Regions from separate parts of the Homo sapiens genome. Here regions 1, 2, 4 and 5 are each linked to region 3. Evidence: fine-mapped expression QTL. A gene starts in region 3. Each other region holds a variant in brackets. All regions are shown on one strand. Distances are between the middles of the regions. Region 1 overlaps FAM184B (family with sequence similarity 184 member B). Region 2 has its middle 34 kb from the start of QDPR. Region 3 holds the start of QDPR (quinoid dihydropteridine reductase). Region 4 has its middle 23 kb from the start of CLRN2. Region 5 has its middle 29 kb from the start of CLRN2.

Evidence for each region. PIP is the estimated chance that this variant, and not a neighbour inherited with it, causes the effect.
Region 1: its variant is fine-mapped to the expression of QDPR in amygdala (GTEx, PIP 0.96).
Region 2: its variant is fine-mapped to the expression of QDPR in whole blood (TOPMed, PIP above 0.99).
Region 4: its variant is fine-mapped to the expression of QDPR in iPS cells (HipSci, PIP 0.95).
Region 5: its variant is fine-mapped to the expression of QDPR in tibial artery (GTEx, PIP 0.91).

What each region holds. Positions count from the first base shown.
Region 1 is chr4:17,724,799-17,729,904 of GRCh38, forward strand. The region is part of intron 1 of FAM184B (family with sequence similarity 184 member B); the gene reads right to left. Among named protein-coding and RNA genes, the nearest start is that of FAM184B, 54 kb to the right of the region's middle. The variant C/G (reference allele first, on the strand shown) is at 2,839.
Region 2 is chr4:17,475,085-17,480,190 of GRCh38, forward strand. No RefSeq gene overlaps it. Among named protein-coding and RNA genes, the nearest start is that of QDPR, 34 kb to the right of the region's middle. The variant G/T (reference allele first, on the strand shown) is at 2,036.
Region 3 is chr4:17,509,130-17,514,235 of GRCh38, forward strand. QDPR (quinoid dihydropteridine reductase) reads right to left here and starts at 2,961. Exons shown (of 7, transcript NM_000320.3): 1 at 2,821-2,961; 2 at 142-234. The coding sequence starts at 2,925. RefSeq lists a silencer at 2,590-3,169.
Region 4 is chr4:17,535,341-17,540,446 of GRCh38, forward strand. No RefSeq gene overlaps it. Among named protein-coding and RNA genes, the nearest start is that of CLRN2, 23 kb to the left of the region's middle. The variant G/A (reference allele first, on the strand shown) is at 3,088.
Region 5 is chr4:17,541,961-17,547,066 of GRCh38, forward strand. No RefSeq gene overlaps it. Among named protein-coding and RNA genes, the nearest start is that of CLRN2, 29 kb to the left of the region's middle. RefSeq lists an enhancer at 2,812-3,408. The variant A/C (reference allele first, on the strand shown) is at 2,035.

The DNA.
Region 1 (5,106 bases), 220 kb after region 3:
GGCAAGCTTGCTCTCTGTCCTGCCTAAATATTTCTGGAATCATTTCCTCCAGACCACCCTTCGTAGGACTCCTATATTCTACGTCAATTCTCTCCCTGGCCTGGCTAGAGTGTTCTTTCTAAATTGAAGGGCTGACTACAAGACAGTCTTGCTTAATACTCCATGGATGCTCTTCATCCACCCCAGAAGTGGCTCTCAATCTCTATCTGCCCCCGCATACCTGAGGGTAGGGCCTGGTCTCTGGGGGACTCACCGCTGCAGAGCCTGCTGGCTTTGTGAGGCAGGGTCATGACTTCGTCACCTTTGTGTCCCAATGGCAAACATAGGGTCAGGCAATGTGCAGGCATACGGCAGGTCCTCAGGGACAGGAACTAGTAGGGACTGTTTGTTACTCAGTATTGTATCCTCACTACCAAGCAGAACCATGGTCCAGGATTTAACAGATGGTAAGTGAATGAGTGAATAAATGGTGAAAAAATGAATGAAGAATTCTGTATGACAGAGAGGGGACACCATTTAGATGTGTTATGTGCAAGTGGATTTACGCAGTGCTGCCTGGGAAAAAGAGGCATGTAATTATTATCCCCACTTAGCCTATTTAAGAAATGCTATTTTTCTCATCCCAGATACCAATGTCAAAAAGTAATAGAAACTACTCTTTCACAGACACATCTAGTAGCACCAAATATGTGTCAGGTCCTGAATCCAGGGCTGCTTTCATTCAGTTCAAATCTGGTAGCTGTCTTTAGGGTCACGCACACTCCTATTAGCACATTTGAAGGTGAGGGTCTGGGAAGTTGCCAGTGTGGGTTGGATAATAGGGTTAAGTGTAAAGGCATCTCCATTTTCACTAATGGTGACAGTCTCCCTTTTTCTTGGCTGGGTTCCCTGAGCCAGTCATATAGCGTCTGTCAGTACTGGGAGGCAGAAAGTGGCATTTAGTACATATTCCTAAAAGTCTTTCCTTGCCTTTTTAAAAAGAAAGGCCCAGGGGTTGTGGCATAATGCCCTCTCAGGATGGCTTGGTCAGATCCTTCTTGTCCAGTGAAAATCTGTGAGATTCCTTTTAAAATCATTATGATTCAGCAACCAAATCCCATATATGTACGGATTTACTAATCAAAACTCTTCTTTTTTTTTTTTGTGACAGAGTCTTGCTCTGTCACCCAGGCTGGAGTGCAGTGGCGCCATCTCTGCTCACTGTAAGCTCCGCCTCCCAGGTTCACGCCATTCTCCTGTGTCAGCCTCCTGAGTAGCTGGGACTACAGGCACCCGCCACCACGCCCAGCTAATTTTTTCGTATTTTCAGTAGAGACGGGGTTTCACTGTGTTAGCCAGGATGGTCTTGATCTCCTGACCTTGTGATCCGCCTGCCTCAGCGTCCCAAAGTGCTGGGATTACAGGTGTGAGCCACCGTGCCCGGCCCACTAATCAAAACTCTTCTATATACAAAACCAGATTCCCAAATCCATTAGCTTGGGTTAAAGGAAATTTATTGGCTCATATACCTGAAAAGCCCGAAGCCAGGGCTAGCTCCAGGTGTGGGCTCTTAAATGATGTCTTTTTGTTTTCTTTTGTTTTGTTTTTATTGGGACAGAGTTTTGCCCTTGTTGACCAGGCTGGAGTGCCATGGCGTGATCTCAGCTCACTGCAACCTCTGCTTCCCAGGTTCAAGTGACTCTTGTGCCTCAGCCTCCTGAGTAGCTGGGATTACAGGTATGTGCCACCATGCTTGGCTAATTTTTGTATTTTTAGTAGAGACGGGGTTTCACCATGTTGGTCAGGCTGGTCTCAAACTCCTGACCTCAGGTGAGCCACCCATCTCGGCCTCCCAAAATGTTGGGATTACAGGCATGAGCCACTGCGCCTGGCCAAATGATGTCATTTTGACTCTACTTTTCCCCATCCCATAGTTTTGCTTTCCTCTGAGTTGGCTTTATTCCTTGGTAGGCTCTTGACAAAGTAGCCACAGGCAGCTTCAGGATTTTATTTTCCCAGCTCAGCCTGCCCCAGGAAAGAGAACTCCTCTTTGTCAACAGTCCCAACAAAAGCTCCAAAGCTAACTCTATCGATCTGGCTAGTGTCATGGACCTAATGCTGATGGATCACTGTGGCCAATGGGATAGAATATTCTGATTGGCTAATTTCAGGTTGCATGGGATCCAGGAGAATGGGGTTGACCTGCCTCAATCACATGGAATGAAGACTGAGTCAGGGTACCTGCTCAGTATCTCAAAGGAAATTAGAAACCTGGTGCCAGGACACACATAGATTCTGTGTCAGTAAGAACAGATACATGCTACAGCCAGCATTCCTGACCCTTCTAAGTAAACTCAGTATGACTCACTGAACACCAACTTCAGAACTGGAGGAGACAGAACAAAAGATTAAGACTCTGTCCCTACTCTCACATAGCACATGAGAAGGACGTGTACACACACAGGGTCATGTGAAACCTCCAGGCAGAAAGATGGCACAGGATGAAGGCTCCGCAGGACACCAGAGGAGGCACCAGGACAGCTGACAAGAGACCTGAGTCCCAAGACCCAGCTCTGTCCCTCTCAAGCAGTGTGAACTTAGGCATGTCCTACAGTCTCTCTGAGAAAACTAAGTTTCCTTTCCTAATGTATTAGTCTGTTCTCACACTGCTATAAAGATACTAGCTGAGACTGGGTAATTTATAAACAAAAGAGGTTTAATTGACTCACAGTTCCACATGGCTGGGGAGGCCTCAGGAAACTTACAATCATGGCGGAAGGTGAAGGGAAAGCAGGCAACTTCTTCACAAGGTGGCAGGGGAGAGAGTGAGTTCAGGGGAAATTGCCACTTTTAAATCAT[C/G]AGATCTTGTGAGAACTCCTTCATTTTCAGATCAACAGAACTCATGAGAACTCACAATCATGAGAACAGCATGGGAAAGACCACCCCCAAGATCGAACCACTTCCCACCAAGTCCTTCCCTTGACATATGGGGATTACAATTCAAGATAAGATTTCAGTGGGGACACAGAGCCGAACCATATCACCTAATAAATGAAATGGTCAAACTAACCTGATATTTCCCAAAGGGAATGAAAGTGACAAAGGGTCAAATAAGCTTGGGGAGTGTTTGGTTAGCTCTGTTATAAAGACATTTGCTTAACTGTCTTTACCCCAGCAGTTGGCCATTGAGTTCTTATTTAAAAAAAAAATTACAATGAGTCCAGGCATGATGGCTCATACTTGTAATCCCAGCACTTTCAAAGGCTGAGGTGGGAGGATCACTTAAATCTAGGAGTCTGAGACCAGCCTGAGTAATAAAGTGAGACCTTGTCTCTACAAAATTAAAAAAAAATTATCCAGGAATTATGGTCATAATGACGATGACAATCACGACGAAGGTAGTGATGATGAGGATGAAGATGAGGATAGTGTTGCTGATGGAAGAGGATCAGGGCCAACATTGCATATCCATCCACAAGCATACCTGTAGTCCCAGCTACTCAGGAGGCTGAGATGGGAGGATTGCTAGAGCCTAGGAGGTTGAGGCTGCAGTGAGCTATGATCATGCCAGTGCACTCCAGCCCAGGTGACAGAGCGAGACCCTGTCTCTTAAAAAAAAATTACAATGAAAATTAACATGCCTCAGAACATATTTTGGATAGTGCTGGACCAGGAGATCTTTACATTTTGACTGCTGTGAGTTAAAGTATGAACAGCACACAAGAACAAATCCTAGGAGAGCTTAGGGCTTGCAGACTCCGTCTCTCGGGGCAGTCAGTGTAGGTCCTGCAGTGAAAGCAGGTGTCCTGAAGGGTGGAGAAGATGGCAACTAAGGGGCAGTAGGAAGGAAGAGTGCTGCGGAAATTGAGCCCAGGTGTGGAGCAGAGGCAAATGCTGGTGTCAGACTCAGAGGTGGTATTTCAGCATGTTAGTAGTAACCTCCGGGTGATGGGATTACAGTAGATTTAAATTTTTTAAAAAAAATTTCTGAGAGCCAAGATGGCCGAATAGGAACAGCTCTGGTCTACAGCTCCCAGCGTGAGCGACACAGAAGACAGGTGATTTCTGCATTTCCATCTGAGGTACCGGGTTCATCTCACTAGGGAGTGCCACACAGTGGGTGCAGGACAGTGGGTACAGTGCACCATGCGCGAGCTGAAGCAGGGCGAGGCATTGCCTCACTCGGGAAGCGCAAGGGGTCAGGGAGTTCCTTTTCCTAGTCAAAGAAAGGGGTGACAGACGGCACCTGGAAAATCGGGTCACTCCCACCCTAGTACTGTGCTTTTCCAACAGGCTTAAAAAACGGCACACCAGGAGATTATATCCCGCACATGGCTTGGAGGGTCCTGCGCCCACGGAGTCTTGCTGATTGCTAGCACAGCAGTCTGAGATCAAACTGCAAGGTGGCAGCAATGCTGGGGGAGGGGCGCCTGCCATTGCCCAGGCTTGATTAGGTAAACAAAGCAGCTGGGAAGCTCAAACTGGGTGGAGCCCACCACAGCTCAAGGAGGCCTGCCTGCCTCTGTAGGCTCCACCTCTGGGGGCGGGGCACAGACAAACAAAAAGACAGCAGTAACCTCTGCAGACTTAAATGTCCCTGTCTGACAGCTTTGAAGAGAGTAGTGGTTCTCCCAGCATGCAGCTGGAGATCTGAGAACGGGCAGACTGCCTCCTCAAGCGGGTCCTTGACCCCCGAGCAGCCTAACTGGGAGGCACCCCCCAGTAGGGGCAGAATGACACCTCACACGGCCAGGTACTCCTCTGAGACAAAACTTCTAGAGGAACGATCAGGCAGCAGCATTTGCGGTTCACCAAGATCTGCTGTTCTACAGCCACCGCTGTTCTGCAGCCACTGCTGCTGATACCCAGGCAAACAGGGTCTGGAGTGGACCTCTAGCAAACTCCAACAGACCTGCAGCTGACGGTCCTGTCTGTTAGAAGGAAAACTAACAAACAGAAAGGACATCCACACCAAAAACCCTTCTGTACGTCACCATCATCAGAGACCAAAAGTAGATAAAACCACAAAGATGGGGAAAAAACAGAGCAGAAAAACTGGAAACTGTAAAAAGCAGAGTGCCTCTCCTCCTCCAAAGGAATGCAGCTCCTCACCAGCAATGGAACAAA
Region 2 (5,106 bases), 34 kb before region 3:
CAATTATTTGAAGATGTGATTTTTAATAATTCTTAGCACAACTAGATTGTGCTAATTAACTGTACGGCTTATTTGCAGTCTGGTATAATGTAGTAGCTAAGAGCGGTCTGAATACCTGCTCAAATCCTGACATTTGCTGCTTCCTAACTGTGTGACGTTGGGCAAGTAACTTCTCTCTATGCCACAATCTTCTCAACTGTGAAATGGACATAATAATAGAAGTGTCCTCGTTAAAGTCATGAAGATGGGTCAATGCTTGTAAAGCAAGGCCTACAGCATAGTAAGGATTCATTTGGTCAATGTTAAGGAAGAGAGATGGCAAGAGGAGCTGCGCAGGGGACTAAACCCCCTAGGCCATTACAGCAGATGCAGTTCAATGTCAAGCAGACCCCTACTGGGTTCACAGCAGCCCATACACCCCAGAAAGGATCTGGACCTCCTTCCCTGCCCAGGGCACTCCTCCCATTCAGCAGTTATTCTATGGCACAAATCATATTATATCATAATGTATGGTGATTATTTAACAATTCTGTGCTGCTAGTCTTTTGGATTGTTTCCAAGATTTCAGTAATGATGCAGGAATTTCATTTGTTATTTTTTTTGTCCTTGTTGCTGATTATTACATAACACTTAAGATATGGAATTACTAGATCAAATGGTATATTTGAGGGTTGTAAGACCCTCAAATTACTTGCCAGAAAAGTTCTGCTACTTGGCTGGCCACCAGCAGGGTTTGAAATTACACTTTACCAATTACCACCTGCATTTTAAAAATCATTGCTAGTTTGGTAACTACTATTAATGCTATCTCACTGTTTCCATTTGCAGTTCTTAGATAACCATTGAGATGGGATATCTTAATTCTTCTCTTACTCAGATTTTCAGTCCAAATTACTTTATCCAGAGCTAAAAAAATAATTTGCAAAAATGCAGTAGGAAATTCTGCCAGAAACGGAAAACTGAGGCAGAGGCCAGAAAGGGACTTGCTTAGTCCAGGAGTATCTCCAGACTATATAGAGGCTCGCTCAATGCTAAGAACATTCTAGAAAAACATTAAGTTTCAGACCTGGCATGGTGGCTCACGCCTGTAATCCCAGCACTTTGGGAGGCCAAGGCAGGTGGATCACCTGAGGTCAGGAGTTCAAGACCAGCCTGGCCAACATGGAGAAACCCCGTCTCTACTAAAAATATAAAAATTAGCCAGGCGTGGTGGCAGGTGCCTGTAATCCCAGCTACTTGGGAGGCTGAGGCAGGAGAATCGCTTGAACCCGGGAGGTGGAGGTTGCATTGGGCCAAGATCGCACCACAGCACTCCAGCCTGGGCGACAGAGCAAGACTGTCAAAAAAAAAAAAAAGAAGGAAAGAAAGAAAGAAAGAAGGAAGGAAGGAAAGAAAGAAAAGAAGGAAGGAGAAGAGAAAAGAAGAGAAGAGAAAAGAAAAACATTAAGTTTCTTCCAATAATCCCCTGCACAGAGCTCTAGGACAGCAGAAACCCCCGGCACAGTAGGATTTTCTGTCTAATGTGCTTTCTTTATCCCCCACGGAGCTTTGCTCCCCACCGTCTCTGTCTCTAAAATGCCCCCCAGTGGCCTTTATTTTACATCTAAGTGATGGTATTACAATAGAAATTGACCTGAAGGGGAAAAAACTTGGACTCAGCACCAGTTTCCTCCCATGGACAGAGCCTCCGAAACTGACCCTTCCCAATTCTTTTGCCAAGCCCCCAGGAGAGGCTGTCCGTCGCACTTTGAAAGGCAGCATGCAGCCACACCATTCACTTCACTTAGACGCTTTCTATTTCCTGAGATTTTAAGCAGCTGTGACTTAAAAACACTCATAGGTGACAGCAGCATATTGCCCAAGTCCCCAGCTAGACACAATCTGCCACAGAATGTGACCACACCGGGAACACCTCTCCCCAGGCCCCAGGCTATTCCAGAAGGGTGAGTGGTGATATTGCTACCACCCTATCATTGCAACAAGTAGAAACTGAAATTAAGAACTAATGGCTTTGGGGCAAATTAAAAATGCAGAA[G/T]TCAGAGGCACTGTTTCCCAGAGAGGCCCACTCTTCCCTCTGAAGTACAGAAAAAAACGGTAAATACTAACCAGCTGCCATCTCACTGAATACCCACAGCCACACCATAAGGGAGATGGTAGCACTCCCATTTTACTGATAGGACACTACATCGGTCAGGGACCAGCCAGAAAACAGAACCACTCCAACAGAGGAAATTTAATAAAGAGGATGGGTCATATCAGAGACGGAAAAATCCAGAATCCAAACAGGGGACAATGAAGCGACCCAGAGATGAGCAACAGTGAGAAGCCACTGCAACTCAAGGGCTGAGAATCAAAGGAAGAGCCGTGGGCAGGCCCTGGGGAGCTGCTTCCACCGAGGAAGGAGCCAGTCAGTGGGAGCGGGGAAAACAGAGGAGACGCACCACAGCTGAAGACGTCACCACTGCCCCTGAGATGCCACTGAGGCAGGAGGGGTAATGGGGATACTGTGCTTCTCCCCTCTCCCCATCCTCCCTTTCTCTACCAGGCCCCCAACTGCCTGACCCTACAGGAAGCCAGGGACAGGGGAGCCTGGAAAATGTGGTGCCTGACATGCAGACTGGGACTGAGAAGGGCAAGCAATAAATGTGAGAAAAGAGGCCAAAGGCTGGCCCATTGCTCGTGGTCCCATAACTACGGTGTGGCAGGGCCAGGTAGTGAACAAAGTGCACCTGTGTCCACCAACCTGCTGCATGGAGGAAGCCACCAAGGAGATGAGAGGCGGACAAAGCAGCAGATGGCAGGAATAAACAGGAGGAGATGTTACCGTCATGCCTCCCTAACCAGAGAATCATACAAACCACCAAGGGTGGCGCTTGGGTGTGGACCCCGGCTCCCTGACTCATTTGCATCACTTAGTAGGGATGTGCGGGATAGTAAGCTTCTCCAAGGCTGTTTCCCTGTCCACTCATTCAGCACTTACTCAACACTGAACAGGTGGAGAGGCACTGTGAAAAATAATGCTTCAGGGGGTAAGAGAAACTAATCTTCATCCCTTCTCTCCTCTACGTTCCTAACCCACCAGGAACAGACAGGAAGGTAGAGGTGAGAAATCAGTTCTGCATAGGCAAGAAGAGGGCAGGAGAGTGAGCAACCCACACAGCCCAAAGTCCATGCAGCAGACCCGCCCCTGGTCCATATGTTCCAGTCAGTCTTTATTTACAGTCTCTCCAATCAGATAAATCCGTCCTTCCTCCTATGGTGAGGAGCAAGTGAGGACCTCAAGAGAGGAAAAGATACATTCCTGCAAAAACCTTCCCATCCTGGAGGCTGAAGAGGTGAATGCCTTAAGGATATACAAGGAAGGATGTATGTAAAACCCCACACACACAGCAGATGGCCCATGAATGCCACATATCATTAGCACATTCAGGGACCAAGTGCCAATGTGCAATCTCTTTTTGTTTGTTTTTGAGATAGGGTCTGTATTAGTCCGTTTTCACGCTGCTGATTAAGATATACCCAAGACTGGGAAGAAAAAGAGGCTTCATTGGACTTACAGTTTCACATGGCTGGGGAGGCCTCAGAATCATGGCGGGAGGCAAAAGGCACTTCTTACGTGGTGACGGCAAGAGAAAAATGAGAAAGAAACAAAAGCAGAAACCCCTGATAAACCCATCAGATCTCGTGAGACTTATTCACTACCACGAGAATAGCATGGGAAAGACCGGCCCCATGATTCAATTACTTCCCCCTGGTTCCCTTCCATTCCCACAACACATGGTAATTCTGGGAGCCACAATTCAAGTTGACATCTGGGTGGGGACACAGCCAAACCAAATCAGGGTCTCACTCCATGATGGCTGGAGTACAATGGCATGATCACAGCTCACTGCAGCCTCAACCTCCCAGGCTCAAGTGATTCTCCCACCTCAGCCTCCCGAGTAGCTGGGGCTACAGGCATGTGCCACCATGCTGGGCTAATTTTTGTATTTTTTTGTGGAGAGGGGGTGTTACTATGTTGCTCAGGCTGGTCTCTAACTCCTGGGCTCAAGTGATCCACCCACCTAGGCCTCCCATAGTGGCTGGGAGCCACCATGCCCAGCCTTCCAATGTGCAAGCTCAACTCACACTTAGTATGTCCTGCACCCTGTCCATAAGGGATCTCACAGACTTCAGTGCAAATTCTGGCTTCTTTCTACACCGGCTATGTGGTTTGGGAAAATAACTTAAACTCTATGATCCTTAGTTCCCTCACCAGATATGGAACTAATATCTACCTCACTCAGGTGCTTAGTCCAGGTTCCCTAGAAAACAGCGAGAAACGAAAGCTTATGTGCAAATGGAAATCATCAAAGTTAAAAATTATGTTCTTCAAAGGGCACCATCAATAAAGTGAAAAGACAACCCACTGAATGAAAGAAAGGTGTGGCAAATCACTTATCTGATAAGGGAATTGTATCTAGAGTATATAGAGAATCTAAGAATTCAGTAATAAAAGGATATTATTAAAAATTGAGCAAAGGATCTGAACAGACATTTCACCATATGCAAATAGCCAACAAGTACATGAAAAGATGCTCAACATCATCAGCTATGAGGGAAATACAAATCAAAATCACAATGAGATGCCACTCCACACCCACTAGGATGGCTATAATCAAAAAGAGACAACCTATAATCAAGCAATCAGTGCCGATTTTTAAGAAAACCAAAATTAAGATACCAACTGAATTAAAAATTATGTAATACTTGTGGCACTCTGACAAATGAGACCTTGAGGTCCTTACTTGCTCCTCACCATAGGAGGAAGAGGATGGACTTATCTGACTGGAGACATGTAAATCAAGACTGACTGGACTGGACATGTGGAAAAACTAAAACCATCATACACTACCAGTGGAAATGTAAAATGGTGCAGCTGCTTTGGAAAACAGTCTAGTAATTGCTAAAATGGTTGAATATAGAGTCACCAACTGATATTCAATAACTCTACTTGTAGGCATGTACCAAAAGAAATGAAAATATATGTTCACACAAAAGGTGAGTTTTGCAAATGTTCACAGCATCATAACTGACTATGGCCAAAAAGCAGAAACAATTCACATG
Region 3 (5,106 bases):
CCTGGGCGACAGAGCAAGACTCCGTCTCGGGGAAAAAAAGAAATAAAAGGAAGAACATACAGCCAAAGGAAGAACATACAGCCAGTGGTCACCTCTCCCCAGGGTTCCCCTCACAATGTTTGGGGGCCTTTTTGAAACTACCTGGTCAGCCTGCTCAGTGAACGAGTCTGTCATTTTAACAATGATGCTAGCGCTGGCCTCTTCATTCTCCACCACATCAACGCTGGCAACCCACTGGAAGGAGAAAACAGCTTTGGTTAAGAGGCAGTGAGTTGTTATTCCATGAAAGAGTCACACATAGAAATGAGGGGAGTTGGCCAGGTGTAGTGGTTCACGTCTGTAATGCCAGCACTTTGGGAGCCAATGTGGGAGGATCTCTTGAGGCCAAGAGTTTGAGACCAGCCTGGGCAACATAGCAAGACCCAGTCCCTACAAAAAAATTTTAAAATTAGTCAGGTGTGGTGGCACATGCCTGTAGCCCCAGCTACCCGGGAGGTTGAGGCGAGAGGATCACTTGAGCTCAGTGAGCTATGATCGCACCACTGTACTCCGGGCTAGGCAACAGAAGGAGGCCTTATCTCCATTTAAATAAAAGAAAAAGAAAAAGAAAGAAAAATAAAGGAGCAGAGTGGAGACAGGTAAGAGGCTTCAATGAAAACACACCCTATATTGGGCTCCATCCCAGGCCCTCCTACCTCCAAACACTCTACTCCGCCTCCACATTCACCTCTAAAACACAAACCCTGCACTTCTAGAGACATCAAGGGCCAGCAAATTTTCTGTAAAGGGCCAGATCACAATTACCTTAGGCTTTGCTGGCCATATGGTATCTGTTGTTACTCAAATCTGCAATTGTAACAGAACACAGCAATAAATAGGGGGAAAAAATAAGTGCAGCTGTGTTCCAATAAATCTTCAGAGCTGAAATGTGAATTTCATTAATTTTCATATACAACAAAATATAATTCTTCATTTGATTTTCTTTTCAACCACCTGAAAATGTAAAACTATTCTTAACTCTTGGGCTGTACAAAAACAGGTGGCAGACCAGATTCAGCTCACAAAGGATCCCTGTCCTGCAGCAGAGAGGGATGGACTTTAGGATTGGAAATCAGACAGATCAGGTTTGAATCCCAGCTCTGCCAGAGTGGCTTTCTCACTCCGATGCCGGGCAGAGGTTCCCAACAAAAGAGGTTGTTTGTTGATGATTAACAGGGTCAGTGTAAGAATTAAATGAAATGGAAGATGCTAAAGCTCCTGGCACAGGGGATGTTCAGTCCTTACTCAGGGTCTCTTGGTCTGAAGTCCCCAGAGATAATTATCTCTACCTTAAGCTGTAAACACAGCATCTATTCATCAACATTTGTTATATTATTAATTAACTTGTTATCCCATGGGGGATACTGAAACAATGAAAAGTCTCCATCATCCTAGCCCTCCCTAAGATGGCAGGAAGAAGCTCGGAGGGGAAAGACCAAGAGCCAGAGGTAAATCAGCTCTCCAGATTCTGCCAAGACCAAGGTAAACCAAAGTGCCACCACCAGGAGAAAGCACAGCCTTCACCCTCTAACACATGACGCTAACAGGATCTACTGCCTTAAAGATATTGGGGGCATTAAGAGTCTATGGGAACTCTGGTACTGGGAACACAGTGCCTGGCCCTTGGCAGAAGTGCTGCCTCTGTCACCACCATGCATCTCTGAAGACCTGGGAAAGCGCCCTCATCAGTGTCCCCAAGCACTGAGCAGATGGGTGGCAGGAAGGGAGTGGTGTGACTGAATTCTTCAGAAGCATATTCCTGTACCAGATTCTGAGCAACAAGAAAACCTTGGTAAATGTACACTATTTGGGTGATGGTTACACTAAAAGCCCAGACTTCACCACTACACAACATATCCATGTAACTAAACTGTACTTTTGCCCCCTTCATCTATAAAAATTAGATAGTTTTTTTTTAAAGAAAATCCTGAAAGCCTTTTTCTGGTCCCAGGGGAACTCTTGCCCAGGCTGCTGTGCTGCTGCTGCTAACTAAGCTCCCAGAACGCTGCCGCTGGCAGTGTCTCCACCGGGAAATTGCTGAGGCCTGCTGAGCGGCTGAGGTCAAGGGTCTTTGGCCATGTATCAGCTCTGCTCCGACTTGCCGCCTCCTGGAAATTGACACCTGACTATGCAAAGTAGTTGAAATAGTCTTTGCAGAGCAAAGAAGCCGTCAGCGTTTTTCCGTGCTGAGCCTTCAAACTGTCAGATCCAATGGGGCTAAAAGAACAGGGGTGGGTAGTAATAGTAACATTAATAGACAGCATTTAAACAGTTTTTACCAGGCGTCAGGTAATTTATGTGCAACGACACCAATTATCTCATCTAATCGTCCCAACTCTCACTGTCAGAATCTCCGTTGTACAAATGGGGAAACCGAGGTCCTACGGCGTTAGGTAATCAATACGCGGTCTCATGACTAGTAACCGGGACTGGGCTGTCTCATTCTAGAGCCTTCCTTCTACACTCTCTCTCCGTCCTCTCACCCCTGCTCCCGTTCCTCCCCTTTGGAATTCTCTCCCGAGTCACGCCGGACTTTTTGGGTCTGGCGGAGGCCCACGGAGCACCTCCTTGCACAGCAAAGGCCCAGCGCCCTGGGACTGGCGTGCGCACGCACTCGGAAACAGGAATAGACGCGTAGACCTGTGCGCGCACGTGCAAGCAACACGAGTCAGGGGGTGCACAGGGGCCCCCACCTTCCTCTAGACTGCCCCCCGCCGGGTTCCACACGAAAGCCCCCGGCCACCCCCGCGGAGACCCAGCAGCCCCAGCCCGCAGCATTACCCAGTTGCGGGCCCGAAAAGCCTGCACGCATCGAGAACCCAGAGCGCCCCTGCCGCCGTACACCAGCACCCGGCGCGCCTCGCCTGCAGCCGCCGCCGCCGCCATCCTGCTCCTGCCAGCCCGGCTCCCGCAGCTCCGAATGCCTCGAGCCGGAGCGCCGCGCCCCGCCCCGGCCGGCCAACCCCGCCAAGAGGGAACGCGCGGCGGCCGCGCCCCGCTCCGCGCCCGCTGCTGCCGCCTAGCGCGCTGCCACGCTCGGGGCGCCCCGCCACCCGGAGGGACTGTAACTTCGGCCAGGCCCTGCCCCTGGGACGGGGACATCGGCGAAGCCCCTCCTCCCACCCGCCAGCAAGTGCTGGGCCTCGGGGCGTGCAGCGAGCCGGGCTAAGGGCGAGGAGGGTGGAGAGCGGGTGTTTTACGAGCATTAATTTGTGAAGTGTAAGCATGTAAAATATAGTATAGTACAATTTTCGACCACTGTTTTGGCAATTTTTTATTTTTAATTGTGCATCAAAATAGAGATTTAAGTATTCCCACCTGCCAAAAAAACAGAAGAGGTCGCTCCGCTCAAGGAGCTGAAAGTCCACCGCCGAGACGAGACAAACCACACTAGGTCTTATTTCTTCTATCTAACCGTAAATTTATACCCATTAATCCAAATGGCCCTTTTACTATATGCCACCCATCGCCAGACACAGATCCTGGCATTTTCTCCCTTGTATATTAGTTATTTCTGCCCATGGCCTGTATCTTTAACACAGAGCCTCTCATCTACAGCACTACTGACATTTTGGGCCAGATAATTATTTGTGACAGGTGCTGCCCTGGGTACTGTAGGATATTTACAGCATCCCTGGCCTGCATATACTAGAAATCAATAGCAAACCCCTACCCCTCACTCATAAGAATCAAAAATATCTCCAGATTTAACAGTTGTCTCCTAGGGGCAAATTCATCACTGATAGAGAACCAGAGCTCTAACACTCTCATAACCTTCTTGATAGCAGAACCCTGTATTACATACATCTTTGTGTCACTTCCCATCCACATATAACCTTGTACACAGCAGACACAGATGTTTGTTCAGTAAACTTGTGCCAGGTAAAGCATGCAGAAATATGTCACTAGAGAAGAGGATGCAGCCAGCAGCACATTTTGTTGTCAGAAGCTTCATTATCAGAAATAGAACTGCTAGGAGGCTGGATGGAGAGGAGAGCACCATCTATTTAGTGCTCCTTATATCCAAGGCACTGCGCTAAGTGATCTGCCTGTGCTATTTCACTTTACTCCACACGATAATCCTATGCAGATTAGAAAGCTGAGGCATGAGAGTCACAGACACTTGTCTGGAAGAGTGGGAATTTGAACACAGGTCTTCAATAGCTAGAGTTCCACTTAACCACACCTTTGTTCAGCAAGACAAAGGCTTGTTGGGAATCAAGTGTTTCCCTTAGAGTTTTTCTGAAAACAATTGCTTAACCCTCAAAACACCAAAAGTTGACACAGGTCCCTCACTGACGGCAGAAATATGACTCAATGATATTTACGCAAGTCCTGACTTGTCAAAGCATGCTTAATGTTAAAATAAGAACGTGAACTAACATTATTGATCACTTAATGTGCCAAGCAGTCTTCTGAGCCTTTTATATGTATTCTGTTATTTTTTACCAGAAAAACATTTGCTGTTTCAAAGTCACTGGGATGAAGATGAGCTGTTGTAATTCAAAGACCTGAATTTCAGCCCCAGCACTGACATCCAGTTTTTCATGAGAGAAATGGCTGAAATCGTGCATCTCCTGTTTACCTTAAAGGGTTGCTGGAGCATCAGAGGTGAGCAAGCATATGGTCAAAGCATTTTGCATTTTGTACATGGTAAAGTGCCACTCATCTGTATATATAGTAAGAGACAGGATCTCACTCTGTTACTCAGAGTGGCATGATCATAGCTCACTACAGCCTTGAGCTCCTGGGCTGGAGCAGTCTTCCAGCCTCAGCCTCCAGTAGCTGGGACTACAAATACACGCCATCAGGCCCAACTATTTTTTTTTTTTATTTTTTGTAGAGATAAGGTCTCACTACATTGCCCAGGCTCAGAAATTCTCATTTTTATTTTCATTGTGGAGTGGCCACTGAAGTGAGCCCCAGTTGCGAGGAAGGAAACTGACATTTCCATTAATGTGTCCCTCTGCTTCCTTGACACTCTCCAAGTGAGATTCCTGGGACCCCTATTGGTTAACAGTGCAACTTCCTGAACCCCCCTTCAGGCTTCTGTGACCAACTAAGAAA
Region 4 (5,106 bases), 26 kb after region 3:
GAGTAGAGCTTCTTAACAAACCTATGCAACTAGGACACACATGAAATCCTTGCCAGATAAATTAGGTTGTCTGCTCTCTGTTTCTTACTTTCTTTTCTACGGCAGTGTCAATCATGAGTCAGCAATAGTCACAGCTTGACAAAAATAAGGCCAATCAATAACAGAGCGTTTGCCATATGCTAGGCTTTCTACTAATTTCCCCACATGCATTGTTTCATTTTCATTCTCATAAAAATTCTGAGACGTAGTTGCTCTTATTACCAGTTTTTGGGTTTTTGAACAAAAGTTCTCTGAAAAGAAATATGGAGGAAAGAGACTTTATTCCAATGAACAGTTTGAAAACCAGAGAGATGCAGCCTCCTTCTACCCGTGTGATTTTCAAGGATGTACCTAGCCTAACGTATAAGGATTTGAAGTAGGTGCCTACCCTATTCCCAGCCTTGCAAACCAAGGAGACACAGTTTGTAAACTGAGGAGATGCAGCCTTCAGTTTGTGAACACAAGTTCTCTGAAAAGGAATTTGGAGGAAAGAGACTTTATTCCAGTGAACAGTTTGCAAACTGAGGAAACAGCTTCAGTGTAAAACAAAAGTGCATTCCAGAGAACAAAGAGAGGGTTCAGGTTTATAGCAAAACGTCCACCCCAGCTTCCCAATCAGGTCTGCTTATGAAAATAAAGGATTCAAACTTTCTTAGCTCTGATTGACCAACACAGCTGAGTTCTGATTGGTTGGTAGAGCTGCACCCTGATTGGTTTATATAGCTGAGTCCTGATTGGCCAAGGCCGGTGAGCTCTGATTGGTTGGTTCAGGTGAGACCTGAAAGTCTCCAAGTTAAAAGGGTGTGGGTTTGCGGGGAACTCAGAGTGTATGTTTGACCTCTAATAAGCAAATGGCTCCTTGGCTGTATTCAAAACTTAGGCCCAGTTAGCCACTCAGGATCCATGTTGAAGGATTGACTCTTTCAGATTCACATTTATTCATTACATTTATTCACAAGTTAAAGAATTAGAAACACAGCTTTCTCATTTATAATATAACCAAGTCGCGTAAGATAATCTCTAATTTTCTTTCCCTCTCTAAAATGTTATGACTTTTAATGCTATATAATATATCCAGATTTATAGTGAATAAAGCACCTAACTATATGCCGGGCACTAAGCTAGGCATTTTCATGAATGCTATTTGGTAATAGTTGACTACCAGTGTGATTGGAGATGCTGTTACATGCACTGACAATTTAATATTGTGAGGATTTCAACCACCAATTCAACTATATTCTGAATATATTGTATATGCATTTCTCTGATGTTCGCGGCTGAGTTCTTGGTTAAATAAAACAAATGTAAAAACATGGCATGTAATTGTTTGCTTTATTGCTTTCTGTTTTGGAAAAAATAATAAGCAACACTAACAAATGACTTTGGAACCACAGTGATTTTTCTTTTGTCATTGACCTCTTGCGGAACAATAAATTGTATATAATACATTTTTTTCTTCTAACATAACAATTCTCTCAACCTTACAGATTTCAAGGGAGTAGGAGGAAGGAGGGAGTGAAGAGGACAAAAAGAATTCTTTCTATTGAAAAGGGGATGTGGCCAGGCGCACACACTTGTAATCCTAGTACTTTGGGAGGCTGAGGCTCAGGAGTTCGAGACCAGCCTGGCTAACATGGTGAAAGCCCGTCTCTACTAAAAATACAAAAATTAGCCAGGCGTGGTAGTTCGTGCCTGTAATCCCAGCTACCCGGGAGGCTGAGGCAGGAGAATCACTGGAACCTGGGAGACAGAGGTTTCAGTGAGTCGAGATCACACCACTGTACTCCAGCTTGGGCAACAGAGTGAGACTCTATCAAAAAAAAAAAAAAAAAGAGAGAGAGAGAGATGTTTGTAAGAGGCCCACAGAAGTTCTCAGCACCAGACCAGGTGTGGTGGCTTATGCCACCGTGCGGTAGGAGGCAGGAGGGAGTGAATAGGACAAAAGGATTCTTTCTATTGAAAAGGAGATGTTTGTCTATTAATATAATCCCAGCACTTTGGGAGGCCGAGGCAAGAGGATCAGTTGAGCCCAGGAGTTTGAGACCAGCCTGGGCAACATAGGGAGACCCCATCTCTATAAAAATATATTTAAAAAAAAAAAGAAAGGAAAAAAGTTCTCAGCACTGTTGAAGAGAGAAATGAGCCATCCTCGAGTCATTCTGTCTACTCTTGTTGAAGCTTCCCTGGGTACCACAGCTTAAGTGGCCCACCTGAGAGGTGGCTCCTGATATACCAGCTGTTTATTAACTATGTCAGTAATGGTGATTTCTGACTCCAAAACAAACTACTCAAAATTTTACTTTAGTTTTGAAAAGTAGTGTTCCTATGGTGAGTAGTCAGCTGAACCATTTTAAAGGCCCACCCTTCAGGGTTTTGCTGTAGTAGGTTATTCCTTGTAATGAAAACAATTTTCTTGAAAATTAATTAATCGTGATGTTTTAAATCTTGTTTTGTAAGTATGCCTTTGTTTCTTTAAAGCCCTCATCATGAAGGCCTCGTCTCTTTTCTCAGTCATCACTATGGCAAACTTTAACAAGTTAGTTAGAATTTACAAAACTGTGGCAAAAACACTGTTAGTTACTTCAGAAAGTAAAGAATGGGAATGCATGACTTTTTCAAGTTCCCTTTACATAGCACGTTGTATGCCTTTCAGCAAAAATGAAAATAATAATAATAATACATTGAAATAGGTAATATTCCATTTATTAAAGTTATACATTCACAAAATTTGTTTCTCCTTAAATTGAAGTTAAGCTTATAAATATTATTGTTCTGTTTTTTAGGTTAGCAAATTTTAGTGATCTCTTTTTAAAAGCTTTGGTTTACCATTTGGTCCCCTTTATGAATGTACTAAATAAACATCTTGAAACAGCCTATGTAACTTAATTTATTTTCCATGCACTTCAATTAACTGACAAAATTTAATAATTCTTCTAAGTCTAATGAATTAAAGTTAAAATGCTGTGAACCTTAAGTTATCTTAAAAATTCTGGCTGGGTGCAGTGGCTCAAGCGTGTAATCCCAGCACTTCGGGAGGCCAAGGAGGGC[G/A]GATCACGAGGTCAGGAGTTTGAGACCAGCCTAGCCAACATGGTGAAACCATGTCTCTACTAAAAATACAAAAAAAAAAAAAAAAAAAAAAAAGGCTGAGTGTGGTGGCAGGCGCCTGTAATCCCGGCTACTCGGGAGGCTGAGGCAGGAGAATTGTTTGAACCTGGGAGGCGGAGGTTGCAGTCAGCCGAGATCACACCACTGCACTCTAGCCTGGGCGACAGGGCGAGACTCTGTCTCAAAAAAAAAAAAAAAAAAATTCCAGCCCTGTATATAAATAAGCAAAACATGATTCCAAATCATTAGAAATATACGGCTGTCCTGTTTCACCAGCAGACCAGCTTCTCTTTCATCACCAATACATAAAATAATAAGGAAGTACAAATTTTAAAATCAAAAATATCAATACCTTGATTTTGCTTCTTTTAAGTATTTTTGTACTTAATTCTAAGCTTTGTCAGGGCAAAAAGACACTTACTCACAAAGTAAATGATTACATCATCTCTCACAACTTTAGGAATTGCCTTCCCATCTATTTTGGGAATTGACTTCTCAGGAGGTTTGAGGTTGCGTTGTGAACTTGAGTCTCGCCTCAAATTAAACCCAGTTTAATAGTGAAGCCTGCCTTATACCTTACCACTATTGTTCATCTTTACTACCCTGCTCGACGTTTTCTTTTTGCTTATCTTTAACATGCTAGATAATTGATATTTGTGTTATACTTACTGTATACTGCCTGTCTTTCTCCATGAGAATGTCATCTCTATGAGGACAGGATTTTTTTTTTTTTTTTTTACAGAGTTTCGCTCTTGTTGCCCAGGCTGGAGTGCAATGGCACGATCTCGGCTCACTGCAACCTCCACCCCCTGGGTTCAAGTGATTCTTCTGCCTCAGCCTCCTGAGTAGCTGGGATTACAGGCATGAGCCACCACGCCTGGCTAATTTTGTATTTTTAGTAGAGATGGGGTTTCTCTATTTTGGTCAGGCTGGTCTCAAACTCCAAACCTCAGGTGATCCGCCCACCTCAACCTCCCAAAGTGCTGGGATTACAGGCATGAGCCACTGCGCCCAGCCAGGACAGGAATCTTTCTAGGGCTTTTGCTCTTTGACAGATGTTAAGCACCCAGAAACTGTTCCTAAATTATTTAGAAAATAGGCCAGGTGTGGTGGCTAATGCCTGTAATGTGCCAGTTGGAATTTTGCAATATCTATACATATGTAGGTACAGTATGTGTGTATGTACCTATATATGTATCTATACAGTGTGTAGCCTTTTCAGACTGGCTTCCTTCATTTAGTAAAATGTATTTATGTTTCTTCCATGTCTTAGTACCTTGATAGCTCATTTCTTTTTAGCACTGAATAATATTCCATTGTCTGTGTGTACCAAAGTTTATTTATCTATTTATCTACTGAAGAACATATTGCTTTCCTCCAAGCTTTAGTAATTATGAATAAAGCTGCTATAAACATCCTTGTGCAGGTTTTTTTGTGGTCATAAGTTTTCAACTTCTTTGGATAAATGTCAAGAAGTGTGATTGCTAGATGATATGGTAAAAGGATCTTAGTTTTTTAAGAAACTGCCAAACTGTCTTTCAAAGTGGCTGTACCATTTTGCATTCCCACCAGCAATGAATGAGAGTTCCTGTTGCTCCACATCCTCACCAGTATTTGGTGTCATCTCTCTTCTGGATTTTGGCCATTCTAATGGGTGTGTATGGTATTTCACCATTTTCTTCTTACAAAGAAAAAAAATCACCTATGACAGATAATAAGCCAATGCTTACTTTTTATATTAGTAATTGGATTTACAGAAGTTCAGGAAAGAAGAGGTTGGTATAGGGATTAGTGAATAAAGTTTCTTGGGAAAGGAACTAGAGCTCAACTAAAAATGTTTCATGCTGGCCAGGAGGGTTACAGGGTGCATGCCAGGCAAAGGCAGAAATGGAGACAAGCAGAGTGTGGAAGGAGAGATGAAGCCCATGTGTTCTTTAGACCAGCGGTCCCCTGCCTTTTTGG
Region 5 (5,106 bases), 33 kb after region 3:
GGTTTCACCGTGTTAGCCAGGATGGTCTCGATCTCCTGACCTCGTGATCCGCCCGTCTCGGCCTCCCAAAGTGCTGGGATTACAGGCGTGAGCCACTGCACCTGGCCCTGATGCTTCTTTATGATTAGATTCAGGCACGTGCTTTCTAGGCAAGAATACCTGCAAGATGACATTTTGCCCATCTCAGCGCATCTCAACAGAAAGCGTGTGATTTTTTTCTCTCCCATTGCGGATGGTGTTCACTTTAATCATCTACGAAGTAGTACTGGCAGATTTCTCCACTGTAGTTTCTACTTTTCCCATTTTAATTAGTTAGTATCTTGTTGAGAGATATTTCTCATCAAATTCTCACCATTCAAACCATGATTTTAGCATCCATTGATGATTTTCTGCCCGAATCAGTTGTTACTGTGGTGATTGCCAAATGGTTCCTTTTCTAATCCCATTATTTCTTCTAAGTTTATTGGTTGGCATTCTACTGTAGGGAAGAGCTTTCCCTTCTCTCCCACTGATTCGTACATTTATATCACTATAGACTCATGAATTCCTATTTTGTTCCATTGTTTACTCTCCATTACCATCATCATTTATTTTGATACTCAAATTATCCCAAATTTGGCTGGTGAGGGCTCTTTCCAGCCAGCTCCTGTTCTTTTGACATGCCCACAACATTATCTGAGCACTTCCTCGCCTATGGCATGGCAAGAGTCTAGGCTCATTTAGTACTTTCCCCATCCCAGCCTTGGAATCAACCTGAGAGAGCTACCGTTTTGTTGTTGTTGTTTTTTAACATGGTAGAGTTTTAAGTCAGGTACTGTCATCGTTCCTATTTTATAAATGAAAAAGAGAAACTCAGGAAGCTGGATATGTGGTTAGAGATAACAGAAGAATGAAGGCAACTCAATAACATTTTGCTACCATGCCACACAAAACCATGAGGAAAACACCATTAAAATAACAACTGGGCCATGGTAGTGATTTGGGAAGACCAATTTAACTCCCATTTGAGATTAGGGACCACTGCTCCCTCACCCTGGAGCACTGGCTAGCATGCGAACTCTTGCCAACTTCATCCTTGACAAAGAAACAGAGAAAAAAGAGAAGAGGCCATCAGCAGCTGCTGCAGTACCTGCTAGAAAACCAAATGCACTCCACACTGGTGTTTAATTGTCAAACAGACAATGGAAATTTGATTGCACTGAATTTTGAATATCTTCAATTTTAAGATTTATCAGAAATACACTGTCTGGGTTTTCAAAAATAAATATTTATTATCATTGGTGAATGTGATGTATCCTTGCTGGATTTTTACTATGTGAAAATACATTTTGTATTGTTTATTGAAAATGTAATAAATTGATGCAATAAGACAATTTTTAAAAAAGAATCCTCTTTTCCCAATACCCCCAGCATTTTTGACAGCTTTATTGAGCTAGAATTTTTACAGCATAAATTTCAGCTATTTAAAATGTACAACTCAAGTAGTTTTCAGTATATTTACAGAATTGTGCAATGTCACCACGTTTTTAGAACATTTTTATTACCCAAAAAAGAAACCTTCTGCCCATTGGTAATCACTCTTCATTCTCTTCCCCATGCAGCCCTAGGCAACCACTAATCTACTTTTTGTCTCTATGAATTTGCCTGTGCTAGATATTTCATAGAAGTGAAATTATACCAGATATGGTTATTGTATAACCAATGACTGGTTTCTTTTACTTAGCCTAGTGTTTTCAAGGTTCATCCATGTTGTGGCATAATATCTCAACATTTTAACTTTTGTTTTTTTTGAGATGGAGTCTTGCTATGTTGCCCAGGCTGGAGTGCAGTGGTGCTATCTCGGCTCACTGCAAGCTCTGCCTCCTGGGTTCACGCCATTCTCCTGCCTCAGCCTCCCAAGTAGCTGGGACTACAGGCACCTGCCACCACGCCTGGCTAATTTTTTTTTTTTTTTGTATTTTTAGTAGAGATGGAGTTTCACTGTGTTAGCCAGGATGGTCTCGATCTCCTGCCCTCGTGATCCGCCCGCCTCGG[A/C]CTCCCAAAGTGCTGGGATTACAGGCATGAACCACTGCGCCTGGCCCATTTTAACTTTTTTATGCCGTCATAATGTCCCTCTTCCCATGCGATACACATCAGACTTATTTTCCTTCTGCTTTCTTCAAATAAATATATTAAGCATGTCTTTATTTCTACAGAATTTTCTTCTTTGTAAGTTTTAATGTCTATACCAGTAGTGAATCCCATGACATCCCCCTACAGTGGAAATTTCCAGGCTTGTCATTTCAGACAATGCAGTCGTTCCTGTAATCCCTATGCATGCAGTCATTCAAGATGAATCTGTTTACAAAATCTGAGCCAAAGGATGACCCACAACAATAAGCACTTTACTACTCAACTGTTCCCTCTTGCAGCTAAATGAAGGTTTTGTCCTCGGGAGACGGTGACATCACCTCTAGGGCTGACAGGCCACAGCAACTGACCTCCTCATCTGGGCTTCTCCCCGGAAGAGGTGGAAGTCATTGTCATTGTTCCTCACAAAGGGCCGCTGTGCTGAAATGCAAAGTAAACAAGCAGAAATGACAGCCTGCTTCATTATAGAACTAGCACTTCCTTCTCACACTCATTTCTTAGTAAACAGACGTGGGTTTGTTTTCACTTTTTACTTTTTATTGGTGAATATGTATTTAATATGCCTAATTTATATATATATATATATGCATAGAAACTACAGTATTGCAGTTCTAGGTAACTATTATCCAGCTTCAATAATTATCAGCCCATGGCTAATTTTGTTTCCTCTGGACATTTACCTCCACTCTCCACCTCCATTAACAAAAGCTTCTTACTGAAAATTATTCCAAATAGTTACTTCATTGTCCCTGCCCTGTCATCCCATAGATCCAATTATTTTCATTTTGTTTTCAACAGATTATTTTGGGAACATTACTATGTGTTTGGCACAATGCCAGGTCCTGGGGATACAAAGATGAAGATGACATTGTTTGGGAAGTTTACAGACCAGGAACTAGAAACACAAACATTGTATTTTATGATAACATGAGGTTGGAGGATGGCCAGAGCTGATCCTGACACAGCCTGGATCAGGAAGCAGTGGGGTTTACAAACAAAACCATTAATAGTAATTACATGGCCCGGCGGGGTGGCTCACACCTGTGATCCCAGCACTTTGGGAGGCCAAGGTGGGTGGATCACCTGAGGTCGGGAGTTAGAGACCTGCCTGACCAACATGGAGAAACTAAAAATACAAAATTAGTCGGGCATGGTGGCACATGCCTGTAATCCCAGCTACTCGGTAGGCTGAGGCAGGAGAATAGCTTGAACCTGGGAGGAGGTTGCGGTGAGCCGAGATGACGCCATTACATTCCAGCCTAGGCAACAAGAACAAAACTCTGTCCCAAAAAAAAAAAGGTAATTACATGCTGGGGCGAGGGTAAGTTTACAGTAAATTTGCTAGTATGGAAGTGCTTATGTGCTATTATTTTAAAGTTTAGCTGGGGTTAAAGTAGCTACAGCAATGAGGTTGGAGTTGGCTAAACTGTGAAAGCAAGTTCGATGGAACCCTGGGTCCACTGTACTGGGTATGAATCACAATCTAGATAACCCAGAGTACTTACTGCAAAGTCAGCGATAGCTCTTCTGTTTTCCACATTGCCGCAAATTTCCCCTAAGGTGAGGCCTGCAGCTAGCTTGAATGGGGAAAGTCAGGGGGTAGGTATAAATTAATATCTTCATAAATTTGTATCAGCCTCACAGGTATGAATCTGTTAAATGTATATAAACATATAAAATATATATGTATCTCTATATAGCCAGCCAAAAGTGGGAAGAAATTGAATTGCCTCTGTATTAAGAGAGACATAATAAAACCAGACAGTAGCTTTGCCTGCCTGATGAAGGGAGGTGGCTCCTACAGGCCACCTGGCCTAGACAGCTGACACCCCCTGGGGTACGGGGACAGTTCTTTGGTGCAGTGATCAGCATGTCCTTAACAGACTGTTCCCGAGGTAATGCCTACTGCGATCTGCTCACCTGTGATCTGTCCACATGCCGTCTGCCTGCGCTGGGTTCTGTGCGTGCACGCAAGTCTCTCTGGTCCAGAAGCCAGAGCTGGGATGGAATTCAAGGAACCACAAAAGTCTCCCTCTCACTGTCAATTTTGAAGAATGAATAAGGGGTAGGCAGGCAAAGGCAAAAAACTCAGGGTGAGGGCATAAATAGAAGCAGAGGTATCGAGGCAGGAAACAGCACAGCCAGGTCACAGCAGTTCAGCACCCACTGGGACAAGCGCAAGACAAGAAGTATGGAAGGAACACAGGCAGGCGAGAAAGGTAGGGCCAGGTTCGAGAAGGATTCCTGCGTCCTGTGAAGGAACTGGGCTTCACTGAGGGCTGAGAAGCAGGATAGGTGGCGCATTAGAAGGAGTCCTCGAGCAGCATGTGGACAGCACATGGGAGCAGAGGATCCAGGCAGGAAGGTGGTGCGGCGTCAAGGGCAGAGGGAGGCAGCCTTCAACCAGTTCAGAAATGAACCAGGGCTGTCATGGGCAGGGTTATGCCCTGCACCGCCCCCCCAACTTATGTTGAAGTCTTGACCCCGGGTACCTCACAATGTGACATATTTGGAGACAGGGCTTTTATTTATTTTGTGAGACGGAGTCTCGCTCTGTTGCCCAGGCTGGAGTGCGGTGGCGTGTTCTCGGCTCACTGCAAGCTCCGCCTCCCGGGTTCAAGAGATTCCCATGCCTCAGCCTCCCCAGCAGCTGGGATTACAGGCTCGCTACCACAGGGCAGATCCCTCATGAGAGTAGATCTCTCAAGAATAGCTTGGGCCATCCCCGTGGTAACAAGTGAATTCTCGCTCTATTAGTTCACAGGAGAGCTAGTTGTTTAAGAGAGCCTGGCAGCTCCTCCTCCCCCCTTGCTTTCTCTCTCACCATGTGACAGGCCTGCTCCCACTCTGCCTTCCACCACGAGTAAAAACTTCCAGGTCGGGCGCGTTGACTCAAGCCTGTAATCCCAGCACTTTGGGAGGCCAAGGTGGGAGGATCACGAGATCAGGAGATCGAGACCATCTTGGCTAACATGG